5 separate regions of the Homo sapiens genome follow, and regions 1, 3, 4 and 5 are each linked to region 2. The links come from fine-mapping of genetic effects on gene expression. A gene starts in region 2. Each other region holds a variant in brackets. All regions are shown on one strand. Distances are from middle to middle.

Region 1 (4,117 bases), 58 kb after region 2:
CCCGGGAGGTGGAGCTTGCAGTGAGCCGAGATATCGTGCCACTGCATTCCAGCCTGGGCGTCAGAGTGAGACTCTGTCTCAAAAAAAAAAAAAAAAAAAAAAAAAAAAAAGGGAGGGACTGGTATTAACCATGTTGAAATGCCTTTAAGGTATTATTTCTTTATTCAGATAATATGTAATTCAGAAGTATAGATTTTCAGTAAAAATGATTTTGAATTTGAAGTCTATTTTAAAAAATACATTATGAAGCTTCAGTTATTTAAACAGGTTAACAATGGCACAAGGATAATTAGGCAAATTAGCCGAGTGGAATAGAGACTTGGGGACACCCATGTTTAGTTCATTCTGAAGGAAGCATTGTAAATCACTGAGTAAAACATAACCCCTGCTGGGCACGGTCGCTCACACCTGTAATCCCAGCCCTTTGGGAGGCCGAGGCGGGTGGATCACCTAAGGTTGGGAGTTCGAGACCAGCCTGGCCAACATGGAGAAACCCCATCGCTACTAAAAATACAAAAATTAGGGCGTGGTGGTGCGTGCCAGTAATGCAGCTACTCAGGAGGCTGAGGCAGGAGAATTACTTGAACCAGGGAGGTGGAGGTTGCGGTGAGCCTAGATCACGCCATTGCACTCCAGCCTGGGCAACAAGAGCGAAACTCCGTCCAAAAGAAAAAGCATAACCCCTAGGGTTGCACATAATAACAAATTCCAGAGGGAACATAGTGAGGTGTATACAATGAACGCATAAACTACTGCGGGGAATACAGTGAGATGCAGACAATGAACGCATAAACTACTGGGGGGAAAAGGTAAGTCGCTACTCTCCAGTACAAACCTGAAGAAGCATAAAAGGGAACACAGTGAGATGCATACAATGAACGCATAAACTACTGGGGGGAAATGCAAGTTGCTACTCTCCAGTACAAACCTGAAGCAGCATAAAAGGGAATACAGTGAAATGTATACAATGAACGCATAAACTACTGGGGGGAAGTGTAAGTCGCTACTCTCCAGTACAAACCTGAAGAAGCATAAAAGGGCGGGCGCAGGGGCTCACACCTGTAACGCCAGCACTTTGGGACGAGGCAGGTGGATGGCTTGAGCCTGGGAGTTTGAGAGCAGTCTGGGCAACATGGTGAAATCCTGTCTCTAGAAAAAATTAAAATAATACGAAGAAGCACAAAAGGAAAGGAACCATAATGGGAAATACGGATAAGGTTTGTTTTGTTTTGTTTTGAGACAGAGTCTTACTCTGTCACCCAGGCTGGAATGCATGTGGCACGATCTTGTCTTACTGCAGTCTCAACCTCCCAGGCTGATGTGATCCTCCCATCTCAGCTTCCCAAGTAGTGACCACAGGCAAGTGCCACCACGCCTCGCTAATTTTTGAATCTTTTTGTAGAAATGGGGTTTTGTTATTTTGGCCAGGCTGGTCTTGAACTCCTGGACTCAAGCAGTCTACCAGCCTCGGCCTCCCAAAGTGCTGGGATTACAGTCATGAGCCACTGCCTAGCTCAAAACATGGATAAGTTTAACACAATATGGAGATGAGTTTTGTTAGTTTATTTCAGAGGGATAATTATTTAACCTACCCAATTTAATTCCATTGGCTTATTGTGTTCAATTTTCGTAAAGGTTTTTTTTTACAGTGCTTTATTAATTACCGTCATTAAATCACTCATGTTTGTGCTTTTGAGGTTAAAATTGCAGAGTTTTCTCGTACTCCAGAAGACTTTCTAAAGAAATATGATGAACTGAAATCTAAAAATACAAGGAACCTTGACCCGCTGGTGTACCTGTTGTCAAAGCTCACGGAAGACAAAGAGGTAGGTGCCCATGCCACGTGCCACACTGCGCCCGTACGGCCCATGTTGGGAGTGGGGTCGCGTCTCCTGCTCACTCCACGCCATCTTCCTGTCAGCTCTTCCTCGCTCACACCAGTAACGCTTCTAGGCCATGTAGGAAATTTTTGGTGAATCAGAATGAAAGATAACCCATGTTGGGTGTAAACATGAGAAGCAGCCTCTGGGGCACTTTGAGCTTCCCGCATGTGTCACGCTCAGTT[C/T]CTGCCTGTCGCACGCGTCGCTTTGCTATTAATGGGTGCCTGTCAGGGTTGGGGAGCCGTCCTGGTGGTGTCGTCCCTACTCTCCCCCTATGGCCAAAGAGGTGCTGGCCCAGTGTGAACACACAGTTTTACATGTTTTCAGACTCTGCAGTACTTACAACAGAATGCAAAAGAAAGAGCTGAGCTTGCAGCCGCTGCTGTGGGCAGCAGTACCACCAGCATCAACGTCCCTGCCGCGGCCTCCAAGATCTCCATGCAGGAGCTTGAGGAACTGAGGAAGCAGCTTGGCAGCGTGGCCACAGGCTCCACGCTGCAGCAGGTACTGCGTCCATGGCTGTCCACAGGCTCCATGCTGCAGCAGGTCCTGTGTCCGTGGCGTCCACAGGCACCCACACTCAGTGCTGTGCCGGGCCCCTGCTGGAAGGACATGTCTCTCTGTCATTTATTGAAAATGAATCCCTTAGAGAGGCCAAGGCTTAATGCTTGATCATGACCTAGCTCTATATGTTTAGTTTTTTTTTTAACCAAGAATTCTGGACCACAAGAATCAATAGCAGCAAGGTTCTGACCCACGTGGGAGTTGTGCTGCCAGGTGGCCACGTGACTCTGAGCCTACCCAATCCTGACTCCCCATTTCCCTCCTCCAATTTTTGACAATTTTGAGGGAATGCTTTCAGATCATTATATTTTCAAGATTCTCGAAAATACAGTAATTTTTATTATTCCTTCTGTATTTGCTACTTGCTCTTGGTTTTGATTTTATGCCCTACCCTGGTCTTTTGACGTAAGTCATCTCCCAGTCTCTCTCATTAGAGCTGCCACGTTCCTGCCTTTGTGACCTTTAAACTCCCTTTGGAGCTGTGTCCCTGAGGCGTCCTAGCCTCCTGGGTGCGTGTTGAGTGCAGCGGCTCCCAAGGACCCAGCCGGTTCTTGCTGGGCACGTTCTGTGCTGGACATGGTGCTAGGCCTCTGTCCACGTCTCCCTCAGCCGTGGCAGAAGACTGGGTCTTACTGCCACGTGCAGAGACAGTTTGCATCTGCCCGTGTCCCTGACCAGCCCTGAGTGGGAGTCAGTGCTTCCGAAAGCTGGGCCAGCCCAGGCCGACCCCATCAGCCTCTGGCGGCCACTGGCGCAGGAGGGCAGGCTCTCTGACCACATGTCAGGAGCCATCCTGTCACGCTGGGGCCCTTCTCCGGCAGGGTAAGGATGCATGTCTGTTGCTGAAGCCTGTCTTCACCCATCAAGTGGTGTTCAGACCTAGTCACTGCCAGAAAGAAGCAATTCAGCTTGTTCACAGGGCGCCCTCCTTTGAAACAGCGGCTCTGTGCCTAGGTGCACCCTCTCCCGTGGTTCCCACTGCTGGTGCTCATGTTTTCCCAGGGGGGCCCTTGCAGGACCTGCACTCCTGAGAAGAGGGGCTAGGGCTCCCCATCTGCCCTGTTGTCCCCAGCCCCTCACGTTGTGGCAGGCAGGGATGTCGAGGCGCATTTCATTTCTATGTGGTTGACCCTTTGTGGGTGTTGAATTGAGTAATCATCTTTGCCGTAGATGCTAGCTTCTATGCATGTCTTTAGTTGAGTGTTTGCGCTAAAGTGTATCTTTCTGGTTTTGTTTTTTAAAATGTCCTTGCTAGTCTCTGGAACTTAAAAGAAAGATGCTTCGAGACAAGCAGAACAAAAAAAATTCAGGCCAGCACCTCCCCATCTTCCCAGCATGGGTGTATGAGAGACCTGCCCTGATCGGGGATTTCCTGATTGGTGCTGGCATCAGCACAGACACCGCTTTGCCGATAGGTACGTGATGCGTTGATTTCCGGGCTCTGCCGATAGGTACGTGATGCGTTGATTTCCGGGCTCTGCCGATAGGTATGTCATGTGTTTATTTCTGGCCTCTGGGCAGGACACTTTGCAGGCCCAGCCCTCCCCCGGGCCTGCCTTTCCTCAGGTTGTGAGGCTCAATGCTGACTGGCTGCCGCCTCCATATTCCCATCCCAGGATGGCAGCAGAGAACGGCTCACCCGGGTCCTTGAGGGTTCTTCTCCTGTCCCTTCT
Region 2 (4,117 bases):
AGACGGAGTCACTTTCTGTCACCCAGGCTGGAGAGCAGTGGAGTGATCTCGGCTCACTGCACCCTCCGCTTCCCGGGTTCAAGCAATTCTCGTGCCTCAGCCTCCCAAGTAGCTGGGATTACAGGCACCAGTCACCATGCCTGGCTAATTTTTGTATATTTTGAAGAGACGGGGTTTCACCATGTTGGCCAGGCTGGTCTCCAACCCCTGACCTCAAGTGATCCGCCCGCCTCGGCCTCCCAAAGTGCTGGGATCACAGGTGTGAGCCACCGCGCCCGGCCTGATTTGGTTTTGAAGCTGAAAACTTTCTTGCCCATCTCTATAAAATCCTCTTGCCCTTGTATATTTGGGTAAACGGTGACTCTCCACTTACAAGTTGGAGTAGAAACTGCCCAGGTACAGCTCTGAAACCCGGTGGCCTCGGTGCAAAGCCACCCCTCATTGGCAGGCCCTGGGCAGCCCCGGTCTTCTCTCTGCCCGAGTGGCCGGCCCAGGGCCAGCTGTTCAGGTGCTGCTGGGTGCCAGCCTGGGTGGCCCCACCAGGCTTTTCCGACGCAGCCCAGGCCACTTCCCATGGGGACAGGCTCCTAGGGCCAAGCAGTTCAACATGGAGACGTCTGTTTCCTCCTGGTTTTCTGACGCGGCTTTGTCATTTTTCACATACAGATTGATTTTCAGAACTTTTTAGGAGCCGCCAGGCCTCAGAGCATTTGTGTCACCTCAGGGCTGAGGGCCAGGGCCGCAGTGCTAGCCCCACAGCTGGTGTCCAGCTGGGAATCATGTGGAAGAAGGTGGTTCCGCGGAGGGAGGGCCTGGCCAGCCTGAGCTCAGCCAAAGGTCAGGATGCCGCCATCCTGGGCAGGGGGTTGCAGGCCGCTGACACCGGGGGATGATGGAGGACCCTTAGGTGTCCTGGCACTTCGCAGCTGAGCCTGGAAGCTGGGCCTGGCTGCCCTCCTGGACTCCCCCCAAGGGGGTCCGAAGTCCTGGCTCCCGTGTCCCTTGCTCCCGGTCCCTCAGGAGCGTGGGCTGAAGGCCTGGGTCCAGCTACCCACCATGGTGACCCCAGGGACCCGGTGCGCTCCGGGCATTCTGCCAGGCCTAAGGGCAGCACGAAGTGGTCAGAGGGCAGAGACCCTCATGAGGGGAGGCCGCGGCGGTTGAACCCCTTCGGCCTGAGGGAGCTCGGGGTGGGAGGCTCGGGTAGGGACACTGGGGAGCCCCCGGCCACAGCGCAAGGGCACCCGAGTCTCGGACCTGGCGAGGAGCCCGTGGGCTGGCTGGGTGTTGCCCCCACGCCACGACTCAGCCCGCACGTCCCCAGTTCCTGGGGCTCCCCGCCCTTCCTTGAGCCGCAAGCGGACCCCAGCCCGCCGAACCCTAGGCCCGGCCCGTCCCCAAGCCCCAAGCCCGGGACCCTAAAGCCCCGCCCTCCAATAAAGCCCCGCCCTCCCCGTAAAGCCCCGCCTCTGCCCCTAAGCCCCGCCCTCCCCGTAAGGCCCCCGCCTCTGCCCCCAAGCCCCGCCCTCCCCGTAAGGCCCCGCCCCGGCCCCCAAGCCCCGCCCCTAGGCCCCGCCCGCCCCGTCTGCCGGGCCATGGTGGCGCTGAAGGGTGTCCCCGCACTGCTGTCCCCCGAGCTGCTCTACGCGCTGGCGCGGATGGGGCACGGGGACGAGATCGGTGAGCGCAGCGGGCCGGGGCCTCGGGGAGCACCCCGGGACAGGCAGGAGGGCGAGGCTTGCACGGGGACCCCCGGGCCGGGAAGGGCCGCGTCCTGGGGTGTGGGCGTTGCTCGGGCCTCCCTGGCTTCCGGGCAGGAAGCCCCCTCCCCCGCATTCTTTAGGGAACTGAGACCTCGTGGGGCTCTGGGCGGAGCCGGCCCGAGCTTCTCCCGGAGTCCCTCCCCAGACGGCCCGAGAGCCCTCGCGTCTGGGCTGCCCCCGAGGGTTCGGCGCTTTTTCTTCTCCTGGGGCCTGGGGTCCCGGGGCAGGGGTTGGGTGGCCGGGGGCCTGGTCCGGGCATCGCGGGCAGCCGCGCGTCCTCTGGCCCCTGGGGAGGCGGCCGGGTCCGGGTCGGCCCCCTGGCCTGGTCAGCACCCGACAGCCTCGCGGGCAGCTGTTGACGCCTCTCTGCCTCCCAGGCAGGGACCTTGCCCTCCCCACCTCCCCGCGTGGCTTCCAGCCCTGCGGATCTGACTGCGGCCGGTCGGCGGTGGGGGCGCCCAACTGGCTGACCTGAGACCTCTTGTGACCCACGATCTGCCGCCATGACTGGGTGGGAGGACGGGCGGCGCCGACCCCGAGGGCAGGGATAGGTGCCGACACGGGCTGTCCTCCCGGCTGTTTAGTTCTTGCGGACTTGAACTTCCCGGCCTCCTCCATCTGCCAGTGTGGGCCCATGGAGATCCGTGCAGACGGTGAGCGAGCCCCAGGTCCCCCAGGGCAGGGCGGGCGGGTGAGCGGTGCTCCTGGCTCTGAGGCTCCTCTGTGGCCTGCCGTGGCCCCAAGTCCATGCTTGCAGTGTGAAGGGTGCAGACAGGCAGGCGGGCGGGCGGGCTGGAGACTGAGTGCTGCCTCCTCTGCCCTCCAGGCCTGGGCATCCCGCAGCTCCTGGAGGCCGTGCTGAAGCTGCTGCCCCTGGACACCTATGTGGAGAGTCCGGTGAGGGCTGAGTCGCCCCTGCACCCTGCTGCTCCGTGCCTCAGTTTCCCCTTTTGCGGGCTTCATAGGGCCCACCTGCCTTGGAGTGGGGGGAAGCCATGTGTCCCCAAAGGGGCCCTGACCCTCACCAGGGGAGTCCCGAATGGTCACCTGACCAGGAAGGCTGGCAGTGCCCAGGGCCCCAGAGCTGACCCCTCCCTCTAGGCTGCAGTCATGGAGCTGGTGCCCAGCGACAAGGAGAGGGGCCTGCAGACCCCAGTGTGGACGGAGTACGAGTCCATCCTACGCAGGGCCGGCTGTGTGGTAAGCCTGCAGCCCCAGTTGTGGGGAAAAGGCCAGGGACCCTCTGTCTCCTGGAGGCTCAGGAGGAGCCAAAGACAGAGGGTCCCAAGCTCTGTCCTCAAGTGGTCTCCCACCCATCACCCTGAGAACCCCGGACCACTGGCACTCCTTCACCAGCCAGGTGGAAGAGGTGCACCTGGGCAGTGTGGCCCCTCTTCCTCTGCCCCCGAGCTTTCCACCTGCCCTGCCCCGCCCAGGATCCTGACCTGCCAGGTGGGTTGTCACCCACCACAGCCTGTGAGTGGAGCCTGGGGGACTCAGGATGCCTGGCCTCCACCTCCTCAATCTCCCCTGGAGGGGTGCCCCCTGGTCCCAGGTCTCTCGCCCCATCCTGGCTATGGTTGGTCAGAGGCTTAGCTGGGTGCTGTGTCTCACTCAGCCCTCTCCACACCTTGCCCTGCAAGGGGACAGGCCCATTTTCCTGGGCAACCCACTGGCAGGTCTTGAGCAGGGCCTCCATAAGGGGGGCCAGGGGCTCTTGTCCTGGGCAGGGGACTCCCCCCAGGACAGCTGGCAGGGGCTCGACAGTCTACTGAGCTGTCTGGGTGGCCCCAGGTCAGGCAGAGACCCAAGCATGGCAGGTTCCTCGTCCACCATGTCCTGGGACCCCCTGTCCTAGGCCTTGGGAGCCAGAGGCTGAGTGACCGTGGGGCCCTTGCCGGGGGAGAGCCCAAGAAATGGAACCCCACTTCCTGGTGCCCTCCCTGCTTTGGGCCCTGGGGAGTCCAGGGCTGGCCCATGAGGGTTTCTTGGCAGGGTTCCCTCCAACCCTGCCATTTTGTCTTCCAGAGAGCCCTGGCAAAGATAGAGAGGTTTGAGTTTTATGAACGGGCTAAGAAGGCTTTTGCTGTTGTGGCAACGGGGTGAGTTCCAGCTGGCTCAGACCTGCCCCATCCCCACTGGGGCCTCAGGAGCTGCCCCCATCCCCACCGGGGGGCCTCAGGAGCTGCCCCTACCCTCTTCTCAGCTTCTGCCTGGCTGAGGCTAGACGTCCCACAGAGTGGAGAGACCAGGGAGGAATTTCGGGGGGGCAGGGCCCCCATTTGCCTGAGCATCAAGTGGGTGAAGGTGGACAGGGTCTGCTCTGTCCCCCAGATGCTGAAGCAGGGTCTCGG
Region 3 (4,117 bases), 42 kb after region 2:
GGTCTTTCCATCTCTGTGTCCTGGGGGGGTGAGGCCTTTCCATCTGTGTGTCTGGGGGGGGGTGTGGTCTTCCCATCTCTGTGTCCTGGGGGCGGTGCGGCCTTTCCATCTCTGTGTCCTGGGGGAGGGAGGGTGTGGTCTTTCCATCTCTGTGTCCTGGGGGGGTGAGGCCTTTCCATCTGTGTGTCTGGGGTGGGGTGCGGTCTTTCCATCTCTGTGTCCTTGGGAAGGGGGGGTGCAGTCTTTCCATCTCTGTGTGTGGCGGGGTGCGGTTTTTCCATCTCTGCGTCTGGGGGGGGTGTGGTCTTTCCATCTCTGCGTCTGGAGGGGGTGTGGTCTTTCCATCTCTGTGTCCTGGGGGAGGGGGGGTGCGGTCTTTCCATCTCTGTGTTTGGGGATACAGTCTTTCCATCTCTGTGTTGGTGGGGGGTGCAGTCTTTCCATCTCTTTGTCTGGGGTGGGTGTGGTCTTTCCATCTCTGTGTCCTGTTGTGGGGGGTGTGGTCTTTCCATCTCTCTGTCTGGGGGGGTGCGGTCTTTCCATCTCTGTGTCTTGCGGGGGTGGTCTTTCCATCTCTGTGTCTGGGGGGTGGGTGTGGTCTTTCCATCTCTGTGTCCTGTGGCAGGGTGCAGTCTTTCCATCTGTTTGTGTGTGTGTGTGTGTGTGGGGGGGGGGGGGGGGGGGGTGGTCTTTCCATCGCTGTGTCCTGGGGGGGTATGGTCTTTCCATCTCTGTGTCTTGGGGAGTGTGGTCTTTCCATCTCTGTGTCCAGGTCGGGGGGAGGGGTGGTGCGGCCTTCCTATCTCTGTGTCCTAAGCGGGGGTGTGGCTGTTCCATTCTGTGTTTGGTAGGGGGGTGCGACCTTTCCATCTCTGTGTCCAGGGAGGGGGGTGTGGCCTTTCCATCTCTATGTCTTCGGGGTGTGTGGCCTTTCCATCTCTATGTCTTGGGGGTGTGTGGCCTTTCCGTCTCTGTGTCTGGGGAGTGCAGTTGTTCCATCCTGTGCCTTGTCTGAGTCCTCTTGACAGCTGCAACCTGGAAGCCACTTCCAGGTGTGTCGGGAGTTGGTTCCTTCCAGTGGGTTCGTGGTCTTGCTGACTTCAAGAATGGAACTGCGGATCTTCGTGGTGAGTGTTACAGCTCTTAAAGATGGCATGGACCCAAAGAGTGAGCAGCAGCAAAAGTTATTGTGAACAGCAGAGGGTCACCACTGCTGGCTGGGTGGCGGAGGGGGTTGTGTGTGTGTGTTGGAAGGGGCAGCTTTTATTCCCTTATTTGTCCCTGCCCATGTCCCGCTGACTGGTCCATTTTACAGGGTGTTGATTGGTCCATTTTACAGTGTGCTGATTGGCCCATTTTAAACACTTCTAGCTAGCTACAGAGCATTGATTGGTGCATTTTTACAGAGCCCTGATTGGTGCATTTTACAAACCTCTAGCTAGCTACACAAAAGTTCTCCAAGTCCCCACTCGACCCAGGAAGTCCAGCTGGCTTCAGCTCTCACAGGTCTTGCAGCTGAAACACGAGCATCTCTGCCGGGCGTGGTGGCTCATGACTGTAATCCCAGCACTTTGGGAGGCTGAGGCAGGCAGATCACCTGAGGTCAGGAGTTCGAGACCAGCCTGGCCAACATAGTGAAACCCTGTATCTACTAAAAATACAAAAAGTAGCTGGGTACGATGTTGTGTGTCTGTAATTCCAGCTACTCAGGAGGCTGAGGCAGGAGAATCGCTTGAACTCAGGGGGCAGAGGTTGCAGTGAGCCAGGATGATGCCACTGCACTCCAGCCTGGGCAAGAAGAGCGAGCCTGCCTCAAAAAAAAAAAAAAAAAAAAAAAAAAAAAAAAAGAAGAAAGAAAGAAAAGAAACATGAGTATCTTCTTAGAAACGGATGCAGCCCACGTACAGTTATGATGCTGGCTTTGAAACAAAACAGTAACATTCTTCATACCGAAGTTTTACACTCCCCACTTGTCAGAAGAAAAACTGAGACAGAATAAACAAATCGCTTCCAGGCAGAGATGAAGCTAGGATTGGAAGCCAGGACCAACAGTCCCCGAAGGGTATAGAACAGTCCTGCTGTGAACAAAAGAGTTTTAGCAGAATCTGCTGTTGTGGAAAGGGCTAATACATCCTCGTGGAGCGCTGCCGCCAGGGCTGTGCTGCTGGCCTTGTGCAGGGAGCTCACGCAAGAGCCAGAGGATTCAACGGGCTGGGGCAGGATCTTCTCAGGGAGATGGAGAACCAGCAGTAAATCTGCGTGTTTGCATTTTTCTTGTGTTGTGCTTTCTCAAGCAGCCGACAGGCCCCGGGCGGCCCCACCACAGCCACCCTCGGCCAGTGCTCATCTCCCACCCCACACATGTGCGTGTGAAACCTCTCTTCACTGATGCACCCAGGCCTGGGCTTCAGGCTTTAGTGTCTTCCCTTGAGTGCTTGGGAACCTGCCTTCAGTTTTCAGAGCACGAA[G/A]CACTGTGCCATGTCAGCTCTGAACCTGAGGCCCTTGAGATTCCTTGACTCCAGGTTGCTGGAGAGCTCTCAGCATCATCCTGTGGAGCTGGGCAGCAGCTGCAGATGACCACCCACTGCCTCCAGCCAGACCCAGAGCCCCAAAAGGAGTGGGCTGTGAGGCAATGCCAGGGGCAGGGGGCCAGGAGCACACCAGTCACATGAAGGGACCAGCCCCACAGGGTCTGTGTGTTTTTCTCCCCGTGTGCAGAGACAAGAGATCGTAGAAATAAAGACGCAAGACAAAGAGATAAAAGACAGCTGGGCCCGGGGGACCACTACCACCAAGACGCGGAGACCGGTAGCGGCCCAGAATGCCAGGCTGCACTTTTATTGGATAGAAGACAAGGGGGCAGGGTAAAGAGTGTGAGTCATCTCCAATGATAGGTAAGGTCACGTGTGTCACGTGTCCACTGGACAGGGGGCCCTTCGTCATTTGGCAGCCAAGGCAGAGAGGCAGAGAGAGAGAGGCAGCTTACGCCATTACTTCTGCATATCAGAGACTTTTAGTACTTTCACTAATTTTGCTACTGCTATCTAAAGTGCAGAGCCAGGTGTACAGAATGGAACATGAAAGCGGACTAGGAGTGTGACCACTGAAGCACAGCATCACAGGGAGACGGTTAGGCCTCCAGATGGCTGCGGGCGGGCCTGACTGATATCAGGCCTTCCACAAGAGGTGGAGGAGTAGAGTCTTCTCTAAACTCCCCCAGGGAAAGGGAGACTCCCTCTCCCAGTCTGCTAAGTAGCAGGTGCTTTTCCTTTGCACTGACGTTACCACTAGACTACGGTCCGCTTGGCGACGGGCATCTTCCCAGACGCTGGCGTCACCGCTAGACCAAGGAGCCCTCTGGTGGCCCTGTCCGGGCATGACAGAAGGCTCACACTCTTGTCTTCTGGTCACTTCTCACTATGTCCCCTCAGCTCCTATTTCCGTATGGCCTGGTTTTTCCTAGGTTATGATTGTAGAGTGAGGATTATTATAATATTGGAATAAAGAATAATTACTACAAACTAATGATTAGTGATACATATATAATCATATCTATGACATATATCTAGTATAACTCCTGTTATTTTATATATTTGTTATACTGGAACAGCTCGTGCCCTCGTTCTCTTGCCTTGGCACCTGGGTGGCTTGCCGCCTATATCACATGCTGTGGGAACAGGGCCGCTGGAGGAAGACGTGGTCGGGAGTCTCTGAGCGCCCTAATTTTATCAAAACAGAGTGATTTCTCCAGGACACACTGCCCCCAGTGTATCTCTGCAATCCAATGCCAGCCCCAATCTCCTGGCCTGCATTTCCTGATGCAGGCTCTGTGGTCCCCGCTGGCACTAGTGATGGATCCTGCACCCTCTGGGGCAGCACCCCCCACTCCCCCAGCATCCCACACACCCCCAAGCACCCCATGCCCCCAGAGCCAGTGCCCCTCCCTGTGGGCATCAGATCCTACCCCCACCAGGTCTACTCCCTAAGTGGTGTGGCAAGGACAACTGGGTGTGGCTCCCAAAGCCAGGAGGTCCGGGACGAGGTGGAGTGCTGTATCCTACCCCATCACCCACCTCTGAGGGGTGCCAGGACTTTATAAATCTTCCTGAAAACTGAG
Region 4 (4,100 bases), 35 kb before region 2:
GCTATAACACAGAGTAACACTGGCTCATTAGGCCCCTGCTACCTCGCGGGGATGATGACGATAGTCCCCTAACCAGGAATACCACACACAACCAAGATAACAAAGCTTCCAGCTTTCTTCCCCTCCAGTGTTATCCGAAGACCGAGGACACAGCCTCAGTCACCCACACGGGCCCTTCTTCCCCCTCGGCCCCCAGTACACGCGGAGCCGACGCAGGAGTGGCCATCACAACACCTAGACGGGCTGGGCTGGCCCCAGAGGTCTTCTTGGGGCCGAATTGTGACAAACAGTAAGAATTACCAAAGACGTTAAGCAGGAGAACGACTCAAGATACCAGTTAAAACTGAACAGGTGCCTTCATACCCACTGTTTCATTTAGTCCCCAAAAGACTCAGAAAAGTCTATCTTGTCAAGAACATGTGGAAACGGAGGCTTCGGGGGATTAAAAGGGCAGAAGGAACTTGCTGGGAACAGAGGACAGGGGCGGCGGGCCAGAGGTAGGAGGTCAAGCAGGCCCTGGGTCCGAGGCTGCGCCGCGGGGGCACTCGCGGGAACGGGCCTCTCCCGCAGCTGCGCAGGGGAAGGGGTCCCGGCGGCTCCGGGAGCGGGTGAGAGCGGGGAAGGAGGGGAGACAAGGGAGGAGGGGCGGGGCCAGCCCAGAACGACCGGGAGAAGCAGGCGACGGCCGAAACCGGGGTGGGAGGGAAGCAGAGGCGCCGCGGCCGTAGGCATGACCTTGCCCCTCCCCGCCGTGCCTCACCCTTGGCCATGTGGCCCGGGAACCAGCGCGCCACGTCGCGACCGCACAGGGGGAAGTTCTCCCGCCAGGCGGCCTGGGCGGCGCTGCACAGCGCGCGCGGGGTCAATCTCATGGCGGCACCGTCCCCGGAAACGCTCCCGCAGCTGACCTCCTCTGCGCCGCTGCGACCCGCCTCTGAGGTTCCGGCGCTGCGGGCCTCCGGCACTGCGGGCTTCCGGCGCTCCAAGGGGCCGCACCACGGCCTGCGCGTGCGCACGACGTTGCCTCCGCCTCCGGCGAAGCCCGGAGTGGGCGGGGCCCGGGCCCAGAGGGAGGGACGAATGGTGGGTCGAGCGTCGGGGCGGGACTGCGAGGAGACCCGGGGGGACGGGGAGGTTCCTGGGTTTTGTGGGTTTAAGTAATTCGCAGATTTATTAACATTCATTAAATATTAAAAATCATCGTTCTCCCTTAAGCATATCCTGAGTATAAGTGTAAAAATTTAGCAATCTCTTTTTACAATTTGGTTAAAATCTCTCAAATACTTTAAATTTACCTTATAAATGTAATCTCTTCATTTTCTTTTTAAGTACTTCAGGGTTTTTGTTTGTTTTGTTTTGTTTGAGACGGAGTCTCCGCTCTGTTGCCCAAGAGTGCAGTGGCACGATCTCGCTCATTGCAACCTCCAACTCCTGAGTTCAAGGGATTCTCCCACCTCAGCCTCCGGAGTAGCTGGGATTACTGGCGCCTGCCACCACGCCGGCTGATTTTGTATTTTTAGTAGAGATGGAGTTCCACCATGTTGGCCAGGCTGGTCTCCAACTCCTGACCTCAAGTGATCTACCTGTCTCGGCCTCCCAAAATGCTGGGATTACAGGCATGAGCCACCGCGCGCAGCCTCAAGTACTTCAGGGTTTAATATAACAAACTGTTTCCAAATACTGACTGCAGTTCTGCTAAATTAAACCGATTAATTAATGAGGCTGAAATATTCTCCACTGTCCAAGACTAGACATAAATATAGTCGGATTTCAACTCTAAATCAGCAGTCAGCAACTGCTCAATTGCACACTGCGTTACAAGAGTATTACTCTACCGGAATTTTTATTTTTGAGACGGAGTCTCGCTCTGTCGCCAGGCTGGAGTGCAGTGGCGTGATCTTGGCTCACTGCAACCTCCGCCTCCCGGGGTTCAAGCAGTTCTCCTGCCTTAGCCTCCTGAGTAGCTGGGACTACAGGTGCGCACCACCACGCCCGGCTACTTTTTTTGTATTTTTAGTAGAGATGGGGTTTCACCATGTTGGCCAGGCTAGTCTCGAACTCTGACCTCAGGTGATCTGCCCACCTCAGCCTCCCAAAGTGCTGGAATTACAGGCATGAGCCATGGCACCCAGCCTCTACTGGAATTTTTTAAACAAGCTACTGAAAATACCAAACATGCTCAAATTCTAAGTACAAAAATATTGCCATGGTTCTGATGTTCTTAAACCACCTAATACCCTAA[C/T]GCCTAGCTGTAAATATTTTTGGGCATGAGAGAGTGGCCCCTCCGTGGAAGACAGAAGCCTCCCAGGTGGTTTCTGGGCTGAGTGGGGGCAGTCAGGGCCTCCTGCTAGGTCAATGCCCCCAAGCCCCCTCCTCACCAAGCCGGTCCCTCACACCCAGAGGGGGCAGCCTGGGTCTTGCTGCCTTTCTCCCTGGGATACAGAATTGATGAAACCCTAAATGTCAATGATAAAGATTTTTGTACTTTAAGGAAGCTGCATTCCCTCATGGTCCTAGGAGCACAAAACCACAATAAAACCCTGTGGAATCTGAATTTCTCTCCCAGGCGTCTGATGGGCAGGTGTCCCCAGAGAGAACAGTCTGGTGACACAGCAAATGCAGGTGGGGCTGCTGGCTACAGAGGGAGGCTGGGGCTCGGGAGGGTGGGGTCAGGGAACATCCTAGGAGGGGCAATTTGAACAGAGACCAGAGGGTGAGAAGAGAGGAGCCCTGCAGATCCAGGCTGGGGTGGAGGGGCCGGAGAGGGGCCTGGACTCCCAGCACATTCACCCCAATACCACGTGGTACCCCAGCACTGCCCACACCCCAACATCCCCCGGCACCCAGCACACTCACCCCAACACCCCCCAGCACCCAACACTACCCACACCCCAACACCCCCCAGCACCCCAGCACTGCCCCCACCCCAACACCCCCCAGCACCCAGCACACTCACCCCAGCACTGCCCACGCCCCACACACTCCCTGGCTCCCATGGGCTGGGCACCGTTTCTCTTTTCAGGCCTTATTATGTATTCACTTCCTCCAGAAAACCCCCGGCCTCAGGGCAGGGCAGGGCACCCCTCATCTCCCCAGTGCCCTGCGAACCTGTGAAGTGGGCGCCTGATGCAGCATCAGTTGATGAGCAAGAGGAGGGTTGTCAGCTATGCTGTCATCCCAGGCAGCAGCCACGAGAATGCAGGGGCACGAGAAGCAACTACAGGACCCAGAGTTCAGGGAACCCAGAGTGTGGGGCCATGTGTGGTTGTGGGGATTGGAGACACAGGGCCCTGTGCAACCTGGGCCCGGAGCAAGACAAAGACAACAGCAGCAGATGCTGGAGCCCCAAGGCAGGAAGGACAGGACAGCCTCAAGGCAGGAAAGATGGCTCTGGGAGCTGTGGCTGTAACTTGCTTTATGTGTCCAGCATCTCCGTGAGCATCTGGTGTCTCAGCTCAAGTCAACCCTGGCCAGACTCCAATAACAGACACAAGAACTGAGAAGGTGGCCCTGGTTACCAAAAACCAGAGGACCCTCATTAACATCCCCAAATTTCAAGCCAGACTGAAATCTGTCAGAAGAAATGAGGGTCCCAGCCTACCCCCGACACGGGTGGAACAGAGTAGGCTGGGCCCAGCTAGAGCCTGGGCCTGGGCTGCTGCACCTGCGGGGCCCACAGACTGAGGAGGCGGTCGGCCTCCCTCCATCCCGACAGCAGAGCCCCGTGCGTCGTGGAGTAAAACGTGCGATGTGTGGCTTCCCCCGCAAACAGGATCTGGAGCTGCAAAGAAGAGCCAGGGTTAGAATGGGGATGCAATTCAGACAGCAGGGTCTGGGCAAGGAAACACAGAAAATGGCTCACAAGCATCCACCAAGAAGCAGGAAAACAGCTCACACACCTCCACCAACGGACGAGAAAAGGGCTCACGTGTACCCACCAATAGCCAGGAAAACAGCTCACACACATCCACCAACGGGCAGGAAAACAGCTCACATGTATCCATCAACAGCCAGGAAAACGGCTCACACGCATCCACCAACGGGCGGGAAAACGGCTCACACGCATCCACCAACGGGCGGGAAAACGGCTCACACGCATC
Region 5 (4,117 bases), 27 kb before region 2:
TCTCATAAATAAACAAATATCACTCCTTCTTCCAACCACATATCCATGTAGATCCACATTTTCTTCCTATGTTTCAACCAAAATAAAACATCACCACAGAATGAATGCAGAGGAGGCCTGAGAACCCAGATGTCTTCTATTAAGTGTAACACTGAAGAGTTTTGCAGAAAAGGCCGGGCGTGGTGGCTCACACCTGTAATCCCAGCACTTTGGGAGGCCAAGGTGGGCGGATCACTTGAGGCCAGGAGTTCGAGACCAGCCTGGCCAACATGGCAAAACCCTGTCTCTACTAAAACTACAAAAATTAGCTGGGCATGGTGGCACACACCTATAATCCCAGCTACTCGGGAGGCTGAGGCAGGAAAATCGCTTGAACCCAAGAGGCAGAGGTTGCAGTGAGCTGAGATCACGCCACTGCATTCCATGCATTCCAGCCTGGGTGACAGAGAGACCTTGTCTCAAAAAAAAAAAAAAAAAGTTTTGCAGAAAAGACAAAACTGCTGCCACCCTTCATTAAATTTTAAGAAAATATTCATTTAAAAATGTTATTTATGCTAACATAGAATAGGTTTGTTACTATCATCTCAAATAATAATTTAATTTATCATGTGGTGACTGGGTGCGGTGGCTCATGCCTGTAATCCCAGCACTTTGGGAGGCCGAGGCGGGCGGATCACGAGGTCAGGAGATCGAGACCATCCTGGCTAACACGGTGAAACCCTGTCTCTACTAAAAATACAAACAATTAGCCGGGCGTGGTGGTGGGTGCCTGTAGTTCCAGCTACTCAGGAGGCTGAGGCAGGAGAATGGCGTGAACCCAGGAGGTGGGGCTTGCAGTGAGCCAAGATTGCACCACTGCACTCCAGTCTGGGGGACAGAGCGAGACTCCATCTCAAAAACAAAAAAATATTTTATTTATCATGGGGTAAATTTACAGATGTGACTCACATAAACAAAAGCTCTTTGAGATCCCCAACCCTTTGCAGGTATATAAAAGGATGGGACAGCTACCACCCCGTGCCACAGACAGGGTCCCACCAAAGCACTCAGGGTCCCACTGATGTCCTAAGCAAGAGAGCACAGGAGGTGGGGCTGGGCCTGGAGCAGGTGGCTCTACACACAGTCACCCACCCGGCTGCCCACCAGCAACCCAGGCCTATCTCAACACCTGGAATGCCAGTTTTCTTTCTTTTTTTTTTTAGACAGAGTTTTGCTCTTGTTGCCAAGGCTGGAGTGCAGTGGCACAATCTCAGCTCACTGCAACCTCTGCCTCCCAGGTTCAAGCGATTGTCCTGCCTCAGCCTCCTGAGTAGCTGTGATTACAGGTGCGTGCCACCACACCGGCTAATTTTTTGTATTTTTAGTAGAGACGGGGTTTCATCATGTTGGCCAGGCTGGTCTCGAACTCCTGACCTCAGGTGATCCACCCGCCTCAGCCTCCCAAAGTGCAGGGATTACAGACATGAGCCACCGCGCCTGGCCGAAATGCCAGTTTTCTCTTCAGTGTGAAGGAGACACACAGGCTTCCCCCGTCACAGGTGCAGGGCTGGTCTGCAGCCTGCAGCCTCCTGCTCCCAGTGGATGGCAACTATGAACCATCTGGCAGGCATGCCCTACATCCCACCCCATCCCGGGTCTTTCAGAACAAGAACTTGGTGCCCCCTCCTGCGGCATCTCTCAGTGGAAACGTGGAATTATTTCTGCCATCTGACTATATCAGGCTGTCTTTGTGTTTTAATCTTGCTGGAAAAGTCAGTCCCTCCATCCCCACATCACTCATGGGATTAACTCCTGAATCGCCACGTGGTCTAGATATGCTGTTTCTAAGAGGGCCAGCCCATACAAGGGAGCCCTTCCTCTGTGGGTCTCCCATTCCATTACTTCTCGGAATGTTTCCTTCAATTATTTCATCCCATTTAAGTATTGTCTCCCCACGTATGGGCAGATGGTGTTTCAAAGTTCTTCTGTATCTACAAGCCCCAGCTCCCTGCAACATTCCAGTAAACACGTTCCCACTGACTGAAGACTGAGCCTGCCTGCAAGTCTACAAACACATTCTGGGCCCTGAGGGACGCTGACAACCC[G/A]CATACAGCAGGGCGCCATCTGTCCCCGCAGGGGTCAGGCCCAGGTGCAGCCAGCACCTGGTGGGGGGGCGCTCATGGGAACCCTACCCATTAAACCCCCTAGAAATACCCTGCAGTGAACAGACACACTGCTGCGTCCTCCATCAGATGAAGGCCTATGAGCCAGCCACTCGCAGAACTTCTCAGGGAGCAAACGTACGCAAAGGCAGGCAGGACCACAAAGCCAATGAGCTTCCGGAACCAGGCGTCCTGTAGCTCAGGGGCAGCATCCTCCAGGGGCGACGTGTCCTCCCACACCAGCTGGATCAGCTGGCAGTCTGGCTCCCAGAAGGGCTCCTCAAACTCCAGGAAGATTTTGTTGTTGGTCCCAAAGCCTATCTTCCTGATTGCTTCTGCCTTCTCAGCCGGCAGGGGAGGGTCAAAGAAGGTGTCCAAATGTTCCCTAAGAAAACCTGGAATTCAGAATTGGACTCTTCTTACATCACATAAAGCCCTCCACGGAAGTCCTGTCTGTCCAGACCTTGGATCCAGCAATTTCCCCTGCTGGTGTTTATCCTACAGACACATTCACACAAGCAGTTTTACTTTTTTGTCCTTGTTTTTGAGATAGGGTCTTGCTCTGTTGCCCAGGCTAGAGTGCATGCAGCACCATGATCAGGGCTCACTGCAGCCTTGACCTCCCTGGCTCAGTCCTCCCACTTTGGCCTCCCAAACTGCTGGGATTACAGGCGTGAGCCTCTGTTCCCCACCTTTCACACAAGTGTTTTTTGTTTTTTTGTTTTTTGGGTTTTCTTTTTTTTTTTTTTTTTGAGATGGATTCTCACTCTGTCGCCCAAGCTGGAATGCAACGATGCCATCTTGGCTCACTGCAACCTCCACCTCCCAGGTTCTAGTGATTCTCCTGCCTCAGCTTCCCAAATAGCTGGGATTACAGGCACCCACGACCAGGCCCAGCTAATTTTTCTATTTTTAGTAGAGATGGGGTCTTGCCATGTTGGTTAGGCTGGTCTTGAACTCGTGACCTCAGGTGATCTACCTGCCTCAGCCTCCCGAAGTGCTGGGATTACAGGCGTGAGCCACCGTGCCTGGCCAACACAAGTGTTTTTAAGTGCACATGTAAAACTGCATGAAATAGAAAAAGTGAAGGCCACCTAAATTTCCATCTATGCTTATGAAATAATGACAAGAAAACACTGCGTGGCAAATTAACCCGCTCCTTTTTTTTTGAGACGGAGTTTCGCTCTGGTCTCCCAGGCTGGAGTGCAATGGCACAATCTCGGCTCACTGCAACCTCTGCCTCCTGGGTTCAAGCAATTCTCCAGCCTCAGCCTCCTGAGTAGCTGGGACTACAGGCACCCGACGGCTAATTTTTGTGAACTGGCTCCTTATAAACAAAATGCTCACAGTTGTAGCAATGTATCTACTGACAATGTCCCCGTGATCAGCACTTAGCAGGGCCTGCAAGCACTTACTCCAAACGTGAATGAACAAAGCCACTGGAGGGAAACAAAAAAGACCGCTGTAGATCTATGTGTGCTGATTTGGAAACACTGACAAGTTCTATTAAGAAAAAAACAAAAAACAAAAACAGGCAAACTGAGCAGCAGATTTTTGGTTTTTTTTTTTTTCTGAGACAGAGTCTCACTCTGTCACCCAGGCTGGAGTGCAATGACACCATCTCGGCTCACTGTGACCTCTGCCTCCCCCGTTCAAGCGATTCTCCTGCCTCAGCCTCCCAAGTAGCTGGAATTACAGGTGCCTGCCACCATGCCCAGCTAATTTTTGGATTTTTAGTAGAGACAGGGTTTCATCATGTTGACCAGGCTGGTCTCGAACTCCTGACCTCAGGTGATCCGCCTGCCTCAGCTTCCCAAAGGGCTGGGATTACAAGCGTGAGCCACCGTGCCCAGCCAGCAGCAGATGTTCATGTGTGGACGACGACTGCATCTCTGGGAAACAGCAATGGGGTCTCAGTGCTCATCCCTGCCCCGGGGAGGGCAAAGCCACCCCTTGGAGACAGGAGTTAGGGCTGC

Evidence for each region.
Region 1: its variant is fine-mapped to the expression of FUOM in lung (TOPMed, PIP above 0.99). The same link has a PIP of 0.9 or more in blood mononuclear cells.
Region 3: its variant is fine-mapped to the expression of FUOM in whole blood (TOPMed, PIP above 0.99).
Region 4: its variant is fine-mapped to the expression of FUOM in whole blood (TOPMed, PIP above 0.99).
Region 5: its variant is fine-mapped to the expression of FUOM in whole blood (TOPMed, PIP above 0.99).

Annotation. Positions count from the first base shown.
Region 1 is chr10:133,297,694-133,301,810 of GRCh38, reverse strand. It overlaps TUBGCP2 (tubulin gamma complex component 2), which reads left to right. Exons shown (of 18, transcript NM_006659.4): 3 at 1,698-1,826; 4 at 2,208-2,384; 5 at 3,700-3,859. Among named protein-coding and RNA genes, the nearest start is that of TUBGCP2, 9.1 kb to the left of the region's middle. The variant C/T (reference allele first, on the strand shown) is at 2,066.
Region 2 is chr10:133,355,486-133,359,602 of GRCh38, reverse strand. FUOM (fucose mutarotase) reads left to right here and starts at 1,584. Exons shown (of 6, transcript NM_001098483.3): 1 at 1,584-1,680; 2 at 2,348-2,416; 3 at 2,590-2,660; 4 at 2,865-2,963; 5 at 3,792-3,865. The coding sequence starts at 1,596. RefSeq lists silencers at 161-323, 1,356-1,435, 1,486-2,105 and enhancers at 2,256-2,355, 2,833-3,567.
Region 3 is chr10:133,313,239-133,317,355 of GRCh38, reverse strand. The region is part of intron 5 of ZNF511-PRAP1 (ZNF511-PRAP1 readthrough); the gene reads right to left. Among named protein-coding and RNA genes, the nearest start is that of ZNF511-PRAP1, 6.4 kb to the right of the region's middle. RefSeq lists enhancers at 2,512-3,013, 3,020-3,289. The variant G/A (reference allele first, on the strand shown) is at 2,469.
Region 4 is chr10:133,390,993-133,395,092 of GRCh38, reverse strand. It overlaps PAOX (polyamine oxidase), which reads right to left. Exons shown (of 7, transcript NM_152911.4): 7 at 3,399-3,781. The coding sequence ends at 3,638. MTG1 (mitochondrial ribosome associated GTPase 1) reads right to left here and starts at 936. Exons shown (of 11, transcript NM_138384.4): 1 at 761-936. The coding sequence starts at 872. RefSeq lists an enhancer at 1-210 and silencers at 535-734, 795-1,144. The variant C/T (reference allele first, on the strand shown) is at 2,243.
Region 5 is chr10:133,382,379-133,386,495 of GRCh38, reverse strand. PAOX (polyamine oxidase) reads right to left here. Exons shown (of 7, transcript NM_152911.4): 4 at 2,284-2,536. Among named protein-coding and RNA genes, the nearest start is that of PAOX, 5.2 kb to the right of the region's middle. The variant G/A (reference allele first, on the strand shown) is at 2,085.